Homo sapiens: one gene and its partner. The protein of the gene in region 2 interacts with the protein of the main gene of each other region in a pairwise test. Each region holds a gene or a part of one and is shown on either strand. Other genes may lie near its edges. The genes, in order: TRIM37 and ZNF329.

What was found.
Region 1: the proteins of ZNF329 (region 2) and TRIM37 interact in binary tests that used the Homo sapiens proteins (3 or more experiments, as listed by UniProt).

What each region holds. Positions count from the first base shown.
Region 1 is NC_000017.11:59,046,350-59,056,343, reverse strand, and holds part of TRIM37 (E3 ubiquitin-protein ligase TRIM37), read left to right. Parts: intron 1-5,015; coding exon 5,016-5,130; intron 5,131-6,950; coding exon 6,951-7,166; intron 7,167-8,524; coding exon 8,525-8,661; intron 8,662-9,994. UniProt on the Homo sapiens protein: E3 ubiquitin-protein ligase required to prevent centriole reduplication. Probably acts by ubiquitinating positive regulators of centriole reduplication.
Region 2 is NC_000019.10:58,139,175-58,149,168, forward strand, and holds part of ZNF329 (zinc finger protein 329), read right to left. Parts: intron 4,025-9,994; 5' UTR 3,931-4,024; intron 3,488-3,930; 5' UTR 3,406-3,487; coding exon of another isoform or gene 3,383-3,405; intron 1-3,382. UniProt on the Homo sapiens protein: May be involved in transcriptional regulation.

The DNA of each region.
Region 1 (9,994 bases), on a different chromosome or scaffold from region 2:
TAAGCTGGGTGCAGTGGTGCGCCGGTGTTTCCATCTACTATGGAGGCTAAGATGGGAGGACGGCTTGGGCCCAGGAGTTTGAGACCAGCTTAGGAAACATTATGAGACCCCCCATCTTTTTAAAAAGAAAAAAAAAAGGGGGTGGGTGGGAAACTACAACTTCCAGTAAGTATAGTAATGTTCCATTTGTCTGTTGAACTTCTAGTGACCTCACCATTTGGAAATCTAAGAATAGTGAGGGATAAAGTGCTGATTTTTTTCACTTCACAGTGCATATTATATTTGAGTGACTGGTTTTACAACTTAATTTTATAAAGCAACTATCAGTTCTTTGTCAATAACAGCAAATTAAAAGTAGAAGAGTCAAGATGAAAGTTGACGAAAACCAGCAATTTTCTACTTTTTTCTTAAACTTTTATTTTAGGTTCAGGGGTACATGTGTAGGTTTGTTATACAGGTAAACTCACATCATGGTGATTTGGTGTACGGATTATTTCATCACCCAGATACTAAGCCTAGTACCCAATAGTTATTTTTTCTTATCCTCTCCCTCCTCCCACCCTCCACCCTCAAGTAGGCCCCAGTGTCTGTTGTTGTTACCCCTCGTTATATCCTTGAGTTCTCATCATTTAGCTTTTTTTTTTTTTTTTTTTTTTTTGAGATGGAGTCTCCCTCTGTCGCCCAGAGGCGACATATCGGCTCACTGCAAGCTCTGCCTCCCGGGTTCACACCATTCTCCTGCCTCAGCCTCCCAAGTAGCTGGGACTACAGGTGCCTGCCACTGCATCTGGCTAATTTTGTTTTTGTATTTTTAGTAGAGATGGGGTTCCACCGTGTTAGCCAGGATGGTCTCGATCTCCTGACCTCTTGAGCCTCCTGCCTCAGCCTCCAAAGTGCTGGGATTACAGGCCTGAGCCACTGCGCCCGGCCCATTTAGCTCTTAAATAATAAGTGAGAACATGTGGTATTTGCGAAAACCATCAATTTTTTTTTTTTTTTTTTTTTTTTTTTGAGACAGAGTTTCTAGTTGCCCAGGCTGGAGCGCAATGGCGCGATCTTGGCTCCCTGCAACCTTTGCCTCCCAGGTTCAAGCGATTCTCCTGCCTCAGCCTCCCGAGTAGATGGGATTGCAGGCACGCGCCACCATGCCTGGCTAATTTTGTACTTTTAGTAGAGATGGGGTTTCTCCGTGTTGATCAGGCTGGTTTCTAACTCCCGACCTCAGGTGATCCACCCACTTCGGCCTCCCATAGTGCTGGGATTATAGGCATGAGCCACCACGTCTGGCCAAAACCATCAATTTTTATTGTTGATTGTTGGTGTAGTATTTACAAGAAAGGATAGAACGTAAATACTGACTCAAACAACAGCCCTATTTAGCCAGGTGTGGTGGCTCACGCCTGTAATCCCAGCACTTTGGGAGGCTGAGGCAGGCAGATCACTTGGGCTCAGGAGTTTGAGAGCAGCCTGGCCAATATGGTGAAATCCTATCTCTACTAAAAATACAAAAATTAGCCGGGCTGTGGTGGCACGCGCCTGTAATCCCAGCTACTCAGGAGGCCAAGGCAGGAGAATCGCTTGAATCCGGCAGGTGGAGGTTGCAGTGAACCGAGATTATGCCACTGCACCCCAGCCTGGGCGACATAGCAAGACCCTATCTCAAAAATAATAATAAAGTAAATAAAAACAACAGCCCTGTTTAACGTGGGGTAGTCTTTACAGGTCAGAAGTTTTTGGGCATTGGCTGGGTGCCGTGGCTCACGCCTGTAATCCCAGCACTTTGGGAGGCTGAGGTGGGTGGATCACCTGAGGTCAGGAGTTCAAGATCAGCCTGGGCAACATGGTGAAACCCTGTCTCTACTAAAAATACAAAAATTAGCTGGGCATGGTGGCAGGCACTTGTAATCCCAGCTACTTGGGAAGCTGAGGCAGTTGAATCGCTTGAGTCCGGGAGGCAGATGTTGCAGTGAGCCGAGATTTCACCAGTGCACTCCAGCCTGGGCGACAAGAGTGAAACTCCATCTTAAAAAAACAAAAAACAAACAAAAAAAGGTTTTTGGGTATCATTACATGATGTTATAATTTGATGATCAAAATAAGAACTTGAATATTTAAAAAAGATTAAAATATGTTCTGAACTGAGAAGTTTCAGAGTATTTAACAGTTTAAAAAGTTCTCATCACAACAATTTTAAACATTTTTTTCTTGAGAGTGATTTAATGTACTCCTGAATTTCCCTTATTCGGAGCTCTTTGTTCTTGAGCATACTGGACAGATGAGTTGCTATCATATCAGCATTTACTCTTATGTGTTTTCCGTAGCTTTTCTGGAAGTATAAAGAAGTTTAACAAGGGATATGATTTTCAGTGTAGGGAAAAAGATATGTTTTTGTTATTGTTTTGTTTTGTTTAGAGTCAGTGTCTTGCTATATTGCCCAGTCTAGTCTAGAATTCTCGGGCTCAAGTGATCCTCCTGTCTCAACTTCCCAAGTAGGTAGGATTACAGGTGCATGCCACGGTGCCTGGAATCATGTTTTTTGAGGGGAGGGATTATTTTAGTTTTCTTCGTATAGCTTTTCAGACTTTTGGGGTTTAACTATTCACCAAGAGAAATAATTTATTGCTATTTCATGCTTCAGCCATAGAGAGAATTACAAAATTATTCAAACATCAATTTTACCAACCTATAAAAGACCCATTTTCTTATAGCCTTGATTTCATCCTTATTAGCGTTACTTATTAGTACAGAAACAAATTCCTGTTATGACATCATTTTTTTTAAGCAACATTGAGTCTATACCATATGCCTGACACTGAGTTGCTAATAAGAAAAATATAGACATGGTTTTTGTCCACAGGGAACTCAAGATGAAATTGGCAGATAAAAACAGAATTTACTACTCTCTTATTATAAAATAATGCTATAGTAGCACCGTAAGTAAATTGCTATGAAGTTTGTGGATAGGGGGCTTCACATTATCCTATTAATGAGACATTGCTCAAACTTTAAACCTTTTATTTCAAGATTCTGGTGGAATTTTGTATGTATTTATTAGAAAGTTATTTAAGGCTTTTCTATAACTATGAATGTATGTTTCATTCTTTCATTAAAACAGAAAGTTAAGAAATTTTACCTGCTGCTTGGTTTTGTTTTAATGGCAAAATATTAGAACTAATGTGCAGAGTTAACCAGTGGTTTAAATCATTCAAAGAAAATAATAGTGTTTAGACGGTCTTACTTTAATGTCTTACCAGTGGGTACTTCCTAGACTGTGAATCGTCTCTGCTCAGTTGAGTGAATCATCTCTACTCAGTTCCGTTCAGAACGTAATTTAATCTCTTGATTTGATTTGATTTGATTTGATTTGATTTGATTTGATTTGATTTTTTGAGACAGAGTTTCGCTCTGTTGCCCAGGCTGGAGTGCAGTGGTGCGATCTCGGCTCACTGCCACCTTTGCCTCCCAGATTCAAGCGATTCTCCTGCCTCAGCCTCCTGAGTAGCTGGGATTACAGGCGCCCGCCACCATACCCGGCTAATTTTTGTACTTTTAGTAGAGACGGGGTTTCACCATGTTGGCCACGCTGGTCTCGAACTCCTGACCTTAGGTGATCTGCCCACCTCGGCCTCCCAAAGTGCTAAGATTACAGGTGTGAGCCACTGTGCCCGGCCAATCTCTCTCTTTTTTTAATACTCAAGTTCTCATTTTGATCATCCAGTTATAACATATAATGATGCCCAAAAACTTCTGACCTATAAAGACTATCCCAACATTAAATAGGACTGTTGTTTTATAGTCAGTGTTTATGTTCTGTCCTTTCTTGCATTAGTATTCTTCACTAAAACTAGATATCTACTGCCAGATAACTGTTAAATGGTCAGTAGGTTCTTACAATAAGGTGTAAAATCCTAGAAAAAAATGAACAGCTAACATTGTGTAGCCGGGTAAAAGGGCTGGAAGGAATGAGAGAGATGTAGATGTCCAAATTAGTCTTGCCTTGTGGTTTTTCCTTTCTTCAAAAACACCTTCACACATGCACTGCAATTTTTTCACCTTAAATATAGTCACGTTAGGCTATGTAACAAAGGTAGAGGTTTGTTTGCTTTAGTAATAGTTTTTTTTTTTTTTTTAATTAAAACAACTCTGGATAGATTAAGATTCTGTCATTTATATATTAATACGATTTTATGTAGGTGCAGTACTTTTTTTCCTAACCTAAGCTGAAATAATGCCATATTGTAATAAGGGCAGTTTTGATTGCTATCTTGAAGGGTTCAGGATATAGTTTATTTAGAGCATGTAACTCCTTGGGGGATAGTAAAGCAATCCTGGGTGGTTGAGCCAGGAAGTGATTTTTTTTCTGAGGGGCAGGAAATACGGGAACGTGAGATGGAATAGAGAAATATAAAGAGCAGCACTTAAAACTTTGTATTTTGCTACAAAAAATTAGCCGGGCGTAGTGGCGGGCGCCTGTAGTCCCAGCTACTTGGGAGGCTGAGGCAGGAGAATGGCGTGAACCCGGGAGGTGGAGCTTGCAGTGAGCCGAGATCCCGCCACTGCACTCCAGCCTGGGCGACAGAGCGAGACTCCGTCTCAAAAAAAAAAAAAACTTTGTATTTTGCTGGGGCCTCATTTAGGGAAGAAAGGGATAAGAGTTATCTTCCTCCTTATAGGAGGAAACTGCATAGTATATGGCTCTCTTCTTCCCAACTCATGATCATCATTGTATTTTAGTTACATTATTATAATAAATATGCCTGAGTAGGTTAGTTTGGGAAGCTTAACTACAATGTACAATGTTATTTCTTTAGAAAGGTAGTTTGAGGACAACTGGCTTTTCAGAACCTTGTGTCATAATCTGTGGACTACATCTATAAACAACAAATACTAGCAGCTCTAAGTTTATGTGAATTTTGGCCTTATAATCAAGTTAACCCAAATTGCAGAATTCAGTGCTAGACTGATAATGTTTTACTATTTGAATTTTTTTTTTAATGTGGCACAATTCTTTTAAGGTTTCAGGTACGTTCACCAACTTTCTTTCAAAAATCCCGGGACCAGCATTGGTACATTACTCAGTTGGAAGCTGCACAGACTAGTTATATCCAACAAATAAACAACCTTAAAGAGGTAAGAAAATATCTATTTCTGTTTTGGTGTTTCCTATTGTCCTTTTGGCTTGTTATATTTGTAATTAGATTTTATATATTTTATTGCTATTTGTAATTTTGTAATTTGTAATTAGAAAAAAAATCTAGTTATCTTGTTCCCCATCCTTACCAGTTCTGCAGTGTCCAGTTTAGTAGACACTAGCCACATACGGCCATGTAAATTTTTATTTTACTTTATTTATTTATTTTTTTTGAGAAGGAGTCTCGCTCTGTTGCCCAGGCTGGAGTGCAGTGGTGCAATCTCGGCTCACTGCAAGCTCCGCCTCCTGGGTTCACGCCATTCTCCTGCCTCAGCCTCCTGAGTAGCTGGGACTACAGGCGCCTGCCACCACACCGGGCTAATTTTTTTGTATTTTTAGTAGAGACAGGGTTTCACAGTGTTAGCCAGGATGGTCTCGATGTCCTGACCTCGTGATCTGCCCACCTCGGCCTCCCAAAGTGCTGGGATTACAGGCATGAGCCACCACGCCCTGCCACTTTATTTTTATTTTTTTTTATTTTGGAGACAGGTCGGACTCACTCTTGTTGCCAGGCACAATTTCCACTAACTGCAGCTTCAACTTCCCAAGCTCGGGTGATCTTCCCACCTTAGCCTCCCAGGTAGCTGGGACTACGAGCATGTGTCATGGCTAGTTTTTGTTTTTGTGGAGATGGGTTTCTCCATGTTGCCCAAGCTGGTCTTGAACTCCTGGGCTCAAGCAGTCTGCCTGCCTTGGCCTCCCAAAGTGCTGGGATTACAGGTGTGAGCCACTGTGCCTGGTCTGTAAATTTAGCTTAATTAAAATTAAAAATTTAGTTCCTTAGTTGCAGTAGCCACATTTCAAGTGCTTGCATTGGTTACTGCAAATCTAGAGCATTTCCATCATTGCATAAAGTTGTTTTGAACAGTGTGGCTGTAGTTTGAGGTAAGCTGTTTGTGTTTCTGTCAGTGACTTAGTTTCTCTTCCACAAGTTATCTTGGATTTAGAGGATTCTAGGCTATAGCACAATTAAAAGTTGTCCCATCTTGAACTCTTACTATTGTTGAATGAGCACTGGGGAAGATTAATTGATGAATTTTTATTTTACAGTGGTAAACTAAGGAATGTTTCATTTCCCTTAGGAAGTTAGGGTGTGGCAGGAGGTTTGGAGTGCTGAGAGTCGTTAATAGGTCAGGGAGGAAAATGTGAATAAATACATGCTTTCAGAGATTTTCATGTTAAATGTGCTATTTAAAACTGCCTGTATTCACTATACTGTTTGCTAATTGTATGTTTAGCTTAGGCTGGATATGAAAGAAGGAGGATGAGCATAAATGGGGCAGTTTATCTTTGTCATCAATTTTTTTTTATAAATAAAAGGCAGTAGGGATTCAGAGAAATGGTTTAAGAAATGGTGCCAAGTGAGGTGGCTCATTCCTGTAATCCCAGCATGTTGGGAGGCCGAGGCCAGAGGAACATTTGAGCCCAGGGGTTCAAAACCAGCTTGAGCAACATAGCAAGATACCGTCTCTAAAAATAAATAAAAATGAAATTAGCCAAGCATGGTGGCACACACCTCCAGTCCCAGCCACTTGAGAGGCTGAGGCAGTAGGATCGTTTGAGCCCAGTAGTTCAAGGCTTGCAGTGAGCTATGATGGCACCACTGCACTTCAGCCTGGGCAACAGAGTGAGACCATTCTCAAAAAATAAATAAAGCAATGGTTTTAGAAACATCTGGATGCATTTTTTTTTCACTTGAGACATCTTTTACTGTGCCAGTGAGCTGTGGCTAATATTTGTGCTTTTCTTGTTTTAAAAGAGACTTACTATTGAGCTGTCTCGAACTCAGAAGTCAAGAGATTTGTCACCACCAGATAACCATCTTAGCCCCCAAAATGATGATGCTCTGGAGACACGAGCTAAGAAGTCTGCATGCTCTGACATGCTTCTCGAAGGTGGTCCTACTACAGCTTCTGTAAGAGAGGCCAAAGAGGATGAAGAAGATGAGGAGAAGATTCAGAATGAAGATTATCATGTAATAATGAGGCCAGTTTTAGATTTTTGTGTTTGATTAAAAAAAAACAGTAGCATCATGGCTTTTAACATATTATGTGCTAAAACAGTAGGCTAAAAATATTGTCCATTGATTTCCATTAGTAATGTATGTATGCCCTTATGTAAATGTTAATAAGTCAGAAGTTGTTGAATCAAAGCATTTCAAGGTTGTGAAAAAAACAATACATTGTATAAAACAAACCGTGATACACATTTTAAAACCTAAACTACCATACATTGTGGATTTTAAAAATGTGTTCTGGCCGGGTGCGGTGGCTCACACCTGTAATCCCAGCACTTTGGGAGGCCAAGGTGGGTGGATCACATGAGGTCAGGAGTTCGAGACTATCCTGGCCAACATGGCCAAACCCTGTCTCTACGAAAAATACAAAAATTAGCTGGGTGTGGTGGTGCTTGCCTGTAATCCCAGCTACTTGGGAGGCTGAGGTAGGAGAATCACTTGAACCTAGGAGGCGGAGGTTGCAGTGAGCCAAGATTGTGCCACTGCACTCCAGCCTGGGAGACAGAGCAAGACTCTGTCTCAAAGAAAAAGAAAAAAAAAAGGTGTTCTATTTTCATTCACTGAAACTAGTACATGCCTTATCATTACTTACGTAGGTAGACTGATTTAGGATTCGGTAGCTAGCCAGGTTCTATCCCAGCTAAACAACAGTCAGAATCCAGAATAAGAGTTCAAGAAGTAGTTGATATTTTTACATAAGAAGGGATGCATAGACAGTTGGTTTTTTTGTAGTAATTTTTAAGATGAGAGACTTCAGTTTTAAGTTAAAATGAAGGACCCAGTGGGTCGAGAGAATGCACAGATTAAGTGCTTTGATAAACTAGAGATAATAGGGTTTGGAATGGAGCAGTCAGGTGAAGCAGTTAACCTTTGATAAACTGAGTTAAAGGAAGGGTGGAGTTTGCAGGTAAGGCAGCTGAAAAGTTGGGGAAGTTTTTGCTTAATAGTGGGTATTTTTTTTCTGTGCAGATAGGTGACAGTGTTAATTAATGACCTTGATAATGGTAAAATTAGGTAGAATTGAGGAGTGATGGTTTGAAACGTTACTCTGTGAGGAAGCTGATGTGGAATATGTGAAGGATTCCAGTCACACTGAGGGCCCAGCTGAAGGCGGCACGCATAAGTTAGTAAAATGATATCAGTCAGTGTGGTTGTGTGATTTTTCTCTACAGGGCTCAGCAGCTGAGGCACAGGAGCAGAAAATAGATTTTTGAAAACTGTATTATTCTTTGGTGCTTGGTTTATGGGCTGGATGGGGTGATCAACTGAGTAGAAACATTTGGAATAGACGTCTTGTTTTCTTGGCATTGATCTAGCACGAGCTTTCAGATGGAGATCTGGATCTGGATCTTGTTTATGAGGATGAAGTAAATCAGCTCGATGGCAGCAGTTCCTCTGCTAGTTCCACAGCAACAAGTAATACAGAAGAAAATGATATTGATGAAGAAACTATGTGAGTTTCCCACTTTACTACTGTAAAGCATTTAAGTGGTAATTATTAGAAGCATATTAACTAACTCACACTTAAATGTAGGGATATTCAGCACTTTTTTGAAAGATTGAATCAATAGTCAGTTTTCTCTCTCTAATCTCTGGGCTCTTAGCCAATAATTTTTGTTTGTGTTTTAACTTTTAAATTTGAATTTTGAAATTATTTTATACTTAAGAAAAGTTCAGAATTTCATGTTTCCTTCACACAGATTCATTCCCTATGAATATTTTGCTTTATATTTCTCTGTATATAATTTTTTCTGAAACACTTGAGATCGAATATACTTCTCATTGTGTACTTTTCTAAAAACAAGGATATTCTTACATAACTATAGAATAGTTATCAAAATCTGGAAATTAACATTGATGTAATACTGTAACCTTCTAAAAATTTGCCAGTAATGTCCTTTGTCAGGATCATGTTGCATTTAATTGTTAAATCGATTTAGTTATCTTCAATCTGGGTTACTTTTTTTTTTTTCCTTTTTTTTTGAGACGGAGTCTCGCTCTGTCGCCCAGGCTGGAGTGCAGTGGCATGATCTCAGCTCACTGCAAGCTCCACCTTCCGGATTACGCCATTCTCCTGCCTCAGCCTCCCGAGCAGCTAGAACTACAGGCGCCCGCCACCTCGCCCAGCTAATTTTTTGTATTTTTAGTAGAGACGGGGTTTCACCGTGTTAGCCAGGTTGGTCTTGATCTCCTGACCTCATGATCCGTCCACCTCGGCCTCCCAAAGTGTTGGGATTACAGGCGTGAGCCACCGCACCTGGCCAATCTGGGTTACTTTTTTAAAAATTTGTTTTTCGGCTGGGCACGGTGGCTCACGCCTGTAATCCCAGCACTCTGGGAGGCTGAGGCGGGTGGATCACGAGGTCAGGAGATCCAGACCATCCTGGCTAACACGGTGAAACCCCGTCTCTACTAAAAATACAAAAAAGAAATTAGCCAGGTGTGGTGGCAGGCGCCTGTAGTCCCAGCTACTTGGTAGGCTGAGGCAGGAGAATGGGGTGAACCCGGGAGGCGGAGCTTGCAGTGAGCTAAGATCACGCCACGGCACTCCAGCCTGGGCGACAGTTGAGACTCTGTCTCAAAAAAAAAAAAAAACTGTTTTTCATGACTAATACTTTCTGAGAAATACAGAATAGTTTATTTTGTAGAAAGTCCCTCAGTTTGGATTAGTCTGAAGTTTCCTCATGATTAGATAGAGGTTACACACTTTTGGCAGGGATACTACGGAAATGATAATGTATCCTTTTCACTGCGTCATACAGAGTGGAGCATGATGTCAGTATGTC
Region 2 (9,994 bases):
TTTCATCCATAACAGATACTTCCTTTGTTGAAATAAAACTTAAACACCACCAAGAAAGTGAAAACACAACCCACCAAATGGGAGAAAATATTTATATTATGTGTATCTAGAATATCGAAAACTCTTACATTTCAATAATAAAAAGACAAAAACCCAATTTTTAGAAATGGGCGAAGGATCTTGTCTTAGTCTGGGCTGCTACAACAAATAGACTGGGTGGCTTAAACAACAGAAATCTATTTCTCACAGTTCTGGAGGCTAGGAAATCCAAAATCAGTGTGTCAGCATGATTGGTTCTGGTGAGGGTCCTCTTCCTGGTTTGCAGATGGCCACCTTCTCAGTGTGCCTTCACAGGGTACAGCAGGAAGCAGGAGCTCCTGAGAGCTCTCCTGTCTCCTCTTATAAGAGCACTGATTTCATTCAAAAAGGTTCTACCCTCGTGACCTAATTACCTCCCACAGGCCTCATCTCCAAATACCATCACAGTGGGGATAAGGCATCAACATACAAATTTTGAGGGGACACTACATTCACCCCATAGGAGTTCTGAATAGATATTTCCCCAAAGAAGTCATACAAATGGCCAATGAGCACATGAAATGATGATCAATATCATTAGGTATTCGGGAAATGCTGATCAAAACCACAGTGAGATGCCACTTTACACTCACTAGTATGTTCAATATTTAAAAACAAACAAAAACAATAACAAGTATTGGCAAGGATATGGAAAAACTGGAAACTTTTCACTGCCGGTGCAAATATAAAACAGTGTAGCTAATTTGGAAACCAGTCTGATGATTCTCAAAAAGGAAAATATGGAGCTGTCATATGATCCAGCTATTCCACTGCTACGGTTTGGATATGGTTTGTCCACACCAAATCTCATGCTGAAATTTAATCCCTACTGTGGTGGTGCTGGGGCATGCAGCCTACCAGGAGGGGTTTGGGTCATGGAGGTGGAACCCGCATGAATGGCTTGGTGCTGTTCTCACAGTAGTGAGTTCTTGCTCTCATGAGACTGGATCGGTTCTGGGGGAAATGAATTAGTGCCCCCAGAATTGTATTGATTCTTTACATAGACTTAGGGCTTTAGAATTTAAAGAATTATATGGATATTTAATATTACCAGTAAATTTAGAGTACACTGCAAAACAGATTATAAACCGTGCACATTACATAAAAATTTACTCAAAATGGATCAGCCTAAACATAAAAGCTACAACTATAAAACTCTTTCTTTTTTTTTTTTTTTTGAGACAGAGTCTTGCTCTTTTGCTAAGGCTGGTGTGCAGTGGCGTGATCTCGGCTCACTGCAAGCTCCGTCTCCCGGGTTCACGCCATTCTCCTGCCTCAGCCTCCCGAGTAGCTGGGACTACAGGTGCCCGCCACCACACCCAGCTGATTTTTTGTACATTTTTTAGTAGAGATGGGGTTTCACCATGTTGGCCAGGATGGTCTCGATCTCCTGACCTCGTGATCCGCCCACCCCGGCCTCCCAAAGCGCTGGGATTACAGGCGTGACCACCGCGCCCAGCCCTTTTTTTCTTTCTTAAGAGACAGGGTCTCACTCTCTTGTCCAGCCTAGACTGCAAGGTGCAATCAAGGCTCAACACAGCCTCAATCTCCTGGGCTCAAGTGATCCTCCCACCTCAGCTTCCTGAGTAGCTGGGACCACAGTTGCACACCATCACACATAATTTTTTTTTTTTTTTTGAGTTAGAATCTCACTCTGTCTCAGGCTGGAGTACAGTGGCATGATCTCAGCTCACTGCAACCTCCACCTCCTGTGCTCAAGCGATTCTCTTGCCTTGGCCTCTTAAGTGGCACATGCCCCCATGCCTGGCTAATTTTTCTATTTTTAGTAGACAGGGTTTCACCATGTTGGCCAGGCTGGTCCTAAACTCCTAACCTCAAGGGATCTGCATGTCTCAGCCTCGCAAAGTGCTGGGATTACAGACGTGAGCCACCACACCCAGCCTAAATTTTTCTTTTTTTTTTGGTAGAGATGAGGTCTCACTATATGGGCCAGGCTGGTCTTGAACTCCTGGGCTCAAGCAATCCTCCCACCTCAGCCTTCCAAAGTGCTGGGATTACAGTTGTGAGCCACCACGCCTGGCTTAACACTCTTTTTTTTTTTCTGAGACAGAGTCTCGCTGTGTTGCCCAGACTGAAGTGCAGTGGAGCGATCTCAGCTCACTGCAACCTCCTCCTCCCGGGTTCAAGTGATTCTCCTGACTCAGTCTCCCGAGTACCTGGGATTACAGGCATGTGCCACCATGCCTAATTTTTGTATTTTCAGTAGAGACGGGGTTTCTCCATGTTGGTGAGGCTAGTCTTGAACTCCTGACCTAAGGTGATCAGCCTGCCTTGGCCTCCCAAAGTGCTGCGATTACAGGCATAAGCCACTGTGCCCGGCCTGGCCTAATGCTCTTGGCCAGGTGCAGTGGTTCATGCCTGTAATCCCAGCACTTTGGGTGGCTGAGGCAGGTGGATCATTTGAGCTCAGGAATTCAAGACCAGCCTGGGTAACACGGTGAAACCCCATCTCTACTAAAAATACAAAAAATTAGCCAGGCATGGTGGCATGCACCTGTAGTCCCAGCTACTCGGAAGACTGAGGCAGGAGAATCGCTTGAACCCAAGAGGCGGAGGTTGCAGTGAGCCGAGATCATGCCATTGCACTCCAGCCTGGGCAACAAGAGCGAACCTCCATCTCAAAAAAAAAAAAAACAAATTAGCCGGGTATGGTGGCCCTCGCCTGTAATCCCAGCTACTAGGGAGGCTGAGGCAGGAGAATTGCTTGAACCTGGGAAGCAGTTTGCAGTGAGCCCTGATCGTGCCACTGTACTCCAGCTCGGGTGACAGAGCAAGACTACATCTCAAAAATAAAATAAAATAAAAAAAGACCCATGCTATAACATGAAACATTTTCCTAAGTCTAACAAGCCACATACAAAAGACCACATACTGCAGGCTATTTATATGAAATGTCCATAACAGGCAAATCTATAAGACAGAAAGTAGATTAGAGATTACCTAGGGCTGGGAAAGATGGGGGAGTGACTGCTAATGGTATGGGTTTTCTTTTTCAGGGGTGATGAAAACATTCGAAGATTGACTGTGGCAATGGATATACAAGCTAGTTAATATAATAAAAAACAATGAATTGTACACTTAAAAGGGTAAATTGTATGCTATGTGAATTATATCTCAATAAAGCTGTTTAAAAGAGTAAGTATGTGTCGAGTCTGTAAGGGTCAGAACCACTAGTCTAGACCCCATCTGCCACATTTCTGGTATTTTAGGACTTTATAAAGGAAATAACAGTCCTTGCAGGGATGTGCTGAGCTCATGTAGACTTCCATTCCCTGGTACTCACCTCTGAAAGGCAGAGGGATCCATTCAGGCCAGGTGTGTGGATACTTGACATCGATGGTTGCTGGACATTAGCCATTTATGCCCATCCACACGGCTCCAGCCATCTCTGTGGGACACCCATAATAATGTTTACTTTACTTGTTCACAACTCATTAACAAAAATAAATCATTTACCAACTTTAATCCCATCCTGACAAAGTCAGCCATGTGATTACAAGTGTGATAAAGAGTCTGACTCCATTTTGGATGGTTGCTGACAGCTTTCAAGCCCCAACCCCTTTCTCCTTCTCCCTCTCATCTGGGCAAGCCAACAAGAAAGTCTGGGAGTTTCCTCCTTGGTGCCAGCAGGAAGTTCAAACTATGCAAGCCCCAACCCCAACCCCATTACCTAATCACAGTGAAAGCCCAGCCACAGCCGGGTGCACTGGATAACACCTGTAATACCAGCACTTTGGGAGGTTGAGGCAGGAGGATCACTTGAGCCTAGGAGTTCAAGGCCAGCTTAGACAATGTAGTGAAATGCCTTTAGCCAGGCGTGATGGTGCATACCTGAAGTCCCAGCTACTTGGTAGCCCAGGAGCTCAAGGCTGCAGTGAGCTGTGATCGTGCCACTGCACTCCAGCCTGGGTGAGACAGCAAGACCCTATCTCAAAAAAAAGAAAACAAAAATTAACAAAAATTATATAGTATCTTTGTGGTGAAAACTTGAAAAAGTTTACTCAAGACCTGAGAGGGCATTTGAGTAAGAGAGGAGCTAGACCAGGTACACAGATGAAAGGGCTGGGTACTGAAACCAGGACAACTCTCACTAGACCTGTAAAAGCAATGCCTTCCAAGCAAATCTCTGGAATAATTTTACTGATGCGTGACAAAATTCACACTGAAGAAGACAGCTTCCTGAAATATCCATGACAACTCCTTAAAAAACAAAAAGAAGAGAGGAAAAAGAGCTAGGAGTAGTTGTTTTGCCAAAGTCAAGGCTCCTCCTTAAAGTTCCAGTAAGCAAGCAACCCAGTGAAGGTACAGGAAGGACAGAGCCCCAAACAGACTTGGAGGCATTTAATAATTTAAAAGGTGATAAAGGTGGCCTCACACATTAGCAAAAGTAAGTATATCTCGTGCTGTCTTTTCAGATGGAAAAATAATTACAATTCCAAATTCACTCACGCTCACACACAGGCTTATAAGACCTAAATAGTATGTGAGAAAAAATTTTTTTGAATGATTAGAAATAATAGAACTAGGCTGGGCGCAGTGGCTCACACTTATAATCCCAGGACTTTGGGAGGCCGAGGCAAGTGGATCACCCGAGGTCAGGAGTTCGAGACCAGCCTGGCCAACATAGTGAAACCCTGTCTCTACTAGAAATACAAAAATTAGCCAGGCGTGGTGGCAGGCGCCCGTAATCTCAGCTACTCGGGAGGCTGAGGGAGAAGAATTGCTGGAACCCGGGAGGCAGAGGTTGCAGTGAGCCGAGATTGCACCATTTCACTCCAGCCCGGGCAACAACAGCGAGACTCAGTCTCAAAAAATAAATAAATAAATAAATATAGAACTACAAGAATATCTTTGAGTTATCAGAGTAGAAAAAAATTGTGGGTTTTTTTGTTGTTGTTATTTTTTATTTTTTTATTTTTCAGATGGAGTCTTGCTCTGTTGCCCAGGCTGGAGTGCAGTGGCGTGATCTCAACTCACTGCAACCTCCGCCTCCTGGGTTCAAGCAATTCTCTTGCCTCAGCCTCCTGAGTAGCCAGGACTACAGGTACCTGCCACCACACGCAGCTAATTTTACATCTATATCTATCTATCTATCTATCTATCTATCTATATATATATATATATTTTTTTTTTGAGACGGAGTCTCGCTCTGTAGCTGGGCTGGAGTGCAGTGGCGCGATCTCGGCTCACTGCAACCTCCGCTTCCTGGGTTCAAGTGACTCTCGTGCCTCAGCCTCCCGAGTAGTTGGGATTACAGGCACGCGTCACCACACTCGGCTAATTGTTTATATTTTTAATAGAGATGGGGTTTCACCAAGTCGGCCAGGCTGATCTTGAACTCCTGACCTCAGGTGATCTGCCTGCCTCGACCTCCCAAAATGCTAGGATTACAGGCATGAGCCATGGCGCCCAGCCAAGAATTTTTTTTTTTTTTTTTTTTTTTAAAGAGACAGAGTCTTGCTTTGATGCTCAGGCTTGAATGCAGTAGTATGATCATGGCTCACTGTAATCTTGAATGCCTGGGCTCAGGAGCCATGACCATAGGAGTATGCCATCACACCTGGATAATTTTTTTTCTTTTTTTTTTTTTTTTTGATACAGAGTTTTGATCTGTCACCCAGGCTGGAGTGCAGTGGTGCGATCTCTGCTCACTGCAAGCTCTGCCTCCCGGGTTCACGCCATTCTCCTGCCTCAGCCTCCCGAGTAGCTGGGACTTCAGGTGCCTGCCACCATGCCTGGCTAATTTTTTGTATTTTTAGTACAGACGGGGTTTCACCATGTTAGCCAAGATGGTCTCGATCTCCTGACCTCGTGACCCGCCCGCCTCGGCCTCCCAAAGTGCTGGAATTACAGGCGTGAGCCACCGCGCCTGGCCATTTTTTTTTTTTAAATGTTTTGTAGAGATTGGGTCTCACTGTGTTGCCCAGGCTGGTTTCAAACTCCTGAGCTCAAGTGATCCTCCAGCCTCAGATTCCCAAAGTGCTGGGATTAAGGCGTGAGCCACCACTACATCAAGCCAAAAAAAATTTCTTTTTTCTTCCTTTTTTTTTTTTTTTTTTTTTTTTGGAGACAGTGCCTCACTCTGTCACCCAGGCTGGAGTGTAGTGGCATGATCTCAGCTCACTGCAACCTCCGCCTCCTGGGTTTAAGTGATTCTCCTGCCTCAGCTGCCTGAGTAGCTTGGATTACATGTGCCCACCACCATACCCAGCTAATTTTTATATTTTTAGTAGAGATGGGGTTTCACCATGTCGGCCAGGCTGGTGTTGAACTCCTGACCTCAAGTGATCTACCCGCCTCAGCTTCCCAAGGTGCTGGGATTATAGGCGCGAGCCACTGCGCCAAGCCAAAGAATTTCTCAACTCACAAAAGGCACAAAACATAAAGAAAAAGATTTGAAACATCTTACTATATCAAAATGAGTAATACACCATGAACATAAGATTAAAAGAACATTCAAAGTACCATCTCTAGAATGGCTTATCAATTACAGAGGGGAAAAAGCGGAGGATCCTGGCAGAGAGCACTTTAACCACATGACAAAAACCTGATCACCACCAGCCTCACATGCTTCCTGACACGACACACCAAGAAGAACATGATGTCACTTAGACAATGCCCTGCCAAAGACGAGAGTCTGAATTTAATATTGGGAATGTCAACTGAACATCAAGTGACAATCTACACAACCACCAGCTGGGTCTTTTAAAAATATATCAATTTCATGAAAAAAAAAAAAAAAGAAAGGAGAGTGCCATTCAAGGTTGAGGAAGACTAAAATAACATGACAAGTCAATGTAACACAGGATCCTGGATTGGATCCTGGATCAAAACAAATACCCAAAAACCATACAAACTGTATCAGCTGCATACAAACTATATCAGACAGGAATTCTGTATCAATAATAAAGTATCTGGGGCCAGGCGCAGTGGCTCACACCTGTAATCCCAGCACTGTAGGAGGCCAAGGTGGGCAGATCACTTGAAGTCAGGAGTTCAAGACCAGCCTGGCCAACATGGCGGAACCCCGTCTCTACTAAAAATACAAATATTAGCTGGGCATAGTGGCACACACCTGTAATTCCAGCTACTTGGGAGGCTGAGGCAGGAAAACCACTTGAGCCTGGGAAGTAGAGGTTGCAGTGAGCCGAGATCGCTCCACTGCACTCTACCCTGGGTGACGGAGTAAGATTCCATCTTTAAAAAAAAAAAGTAGGTGGTACCTGGTCAAGAGAGGAAGGTAGTCCCTCTCCCTCTCCCCCTCCCCCTCTCCCTCTCCCCACGGTCTCCCTCTCCCTCTCTTTCCACGGTCTCCCTCTGATGCCGAGCCGAAGCTGGACGGTACTGCTGCCATCTCGGCTCACTGCAACCTCCCTGCCTGATTCTCCCGCCTCAGCCTGCCGAGTGCCTGCAATTGCAGGCACGCGCCGCCACGCCTGACTGGTTTTCGTATTTTTTTGGTGGAGACGGGGTTTCGCTGTGTTGGCCAGGCTGGTCTCCAGCTCCTAACCACGAGTGATCCGCCAGCCTCGGCCTCCCGAGGTGCCGGGATTGCAGACGGAGTCTGGTTCACTCAGTGCTCAATGGTGCCCAGGCTGGAGTGCAGTGGCGTGATCTTGGCTTGCTACAACCTCCACCTCCCAGCCACCTGCCTTGGCCTCCCAAAGTGCCGAGAGTGCAGCCTCTGCCCGGCCGCCACCCTGTCTGGGAAGTGAGGAGCATCTCTGCCTGGCCGCCCATCATCTGGGACGTGAGGAGCCCCTCTGCCTGGCTGCCCAGTCTGGAAAGTGAGGAGCGTCTCTGCCCGGCCGCCATCCCATCTAGGAAGTGAGGAGCGTCTCTGCCCGGCCGCCCATCGTCTGAGATGTGGGGAGCGCCTCTGCCCCGCCGCCCCATCTGGGATGTGAGGAGCGCCTCTGCCCGGCCGCGACCCCGTCTGGGAGGTGAGGAGCGTCTCTGCCCAGCCGCCCCGTCTGAGAAGTGAGGAGACCCTCCGCCTGGCAACCGCCCCGTCTGAGAAGTGAGGAGCCCCTCCGCCAGGCAGCCGCCCCGTCTGAGAAGTGAGGAGCCCCTCCGCCCGGCAGCCACCCCGTCTGGGAAGTGAGGAGCGTCTCCGCCTGGCAGCCACCCCGTCCAGGAGGGAGGTGGGGGGCCAGCCCCCCGCCCGGCCAGCCGCCCCGTCCGGGAGGTGAGGGGCGCCTCTGCCCAGCCGCCCCTACTGGGAAGTGAGGAGCCCCTCTGCCCGGCCAGCCGCCCCGCCCGGGAGGGAGGTGGGGGGGTCAGCCCCCCGCCCGGCCAGCCGCCCCGTCCGGGAGGGAGGTGGGGGGGTCAGCCCTCCGCCTGGCCAGACGCCCCGTCCAGGAGGGAGGTGGGGGGCCAGCCCCCCGCCCGGCCAGCCGCCCTGTCTGGGAGATGAGGGGCGCCTCTGCCCGGCTGCCCCACTGGGAAGTGAGGAGACCCTCTGCCCGGCCAGCCGCCCCGTCCGGGAGGGAGGTGGGGGGGGTCAGCCCCCCCACCCGGCCAGCCGCCCCGTCCGGGAGGTGAGGGGCGCCTCTGCCCAGCCGCCCCTACTGGGAAGTGAGGAGCCCCTATGCCCAGCCACCACCCCGTCTGGGAGGTGTACCCAACAGCTCAATGAGAACGGGCCATGATGACAATGGCGGTTTTGTGGAATAGAAAGGGGGGAAAGGTGGGGAAAAGATTGAGAAATCGGATGGTTGCCGTGTCTGTGCAGAAAGTAGACATGGGAGACTTTTCATTTTGTTCTGTACTAAGAAAAATTCTTCTGCCTTGGGATCCTGTTGATCTGTGACCTTACCCCCAACCCTGTGCTCTCTGAAACATGTGCTGTGTCCACTCAGGGTTAAATGGATTAAGGGCGGTGCAAGATGTGCTTTGTTAAACAGATGCTTGAAGGCAGCATGCTCCTTAAGAGTCATCACCACTCCCTAATCTCAAGTACCCAGGGACACAAACACTGCGCGGAAGGCCGCAGGGTCCTCTGCCTAGGAAAACCAGAGACCTTTGTTCACTTATTTATCTGCTGACCTCCCCTCCACTATTGTCCTATGACCCTGCCAAATCCCCCTCTGCGAGAAACACCCAAGAATGATCAATTAAAAAAAAAAAAAAAAAAAGAGAGGAAGGTAAAAAATTTCCCTGTTTCTTCTTTTCCAGGTTCAGATTGGCAGGAAAAAAAAATTACAAATAAAAAACAATTAGTTTTTTGAAAAAAAAAAAGTATACTTGGGTGTGATAATAACACTAGTTTTGTTTAAATGTTCAAATGTTCTTTTTGGCTGGGTGTGGTGGCTCACACCTGTAATCCCACCACTTTGGGAGGCCAAGGCAGGAGGACTGCTTAAGACCAGGAGTTCAAGAACAGTCTGGGCAACATAGTGAGATCTCATCTCTATAAAAAATACAAAATTAAAAAATAAGAACGTTACTTTTCTTATGAGATCCTGGCTGAAGTATTTCAGAGTGAGGTATGATATCTATAACATACTTCCAGTAACTCAGCCAAAAAAACTAAGTGTATGTAAATATATGTCTGTATCACACCTGCCTCTGCAACACCTGCTGTGTGTACAAGTGTGTGTAAAATATAAAAAGAAAACCCTATGTCAGAGGCGTTTGAACCAAAGCAAACCTCCATCTTAAATGGGGACTGGGTAAAATAAGGCTGAAACCTACTGGGCTGCATTTCCAGACAGTTAAGGCATTCTAGGTCATAGGATAACACAGGAGATTTGCACAAGATACAGGTCATAAAGACCTTGTTGATAAAACAGCTTGCAGTAAAGGTGGCTAAAACCCACCAAAACCAAGATGGCAACGAGAGTGACCTCTGGTCCTGCTCCCACTAGCACCATGACAGTTTACAAATGTCATG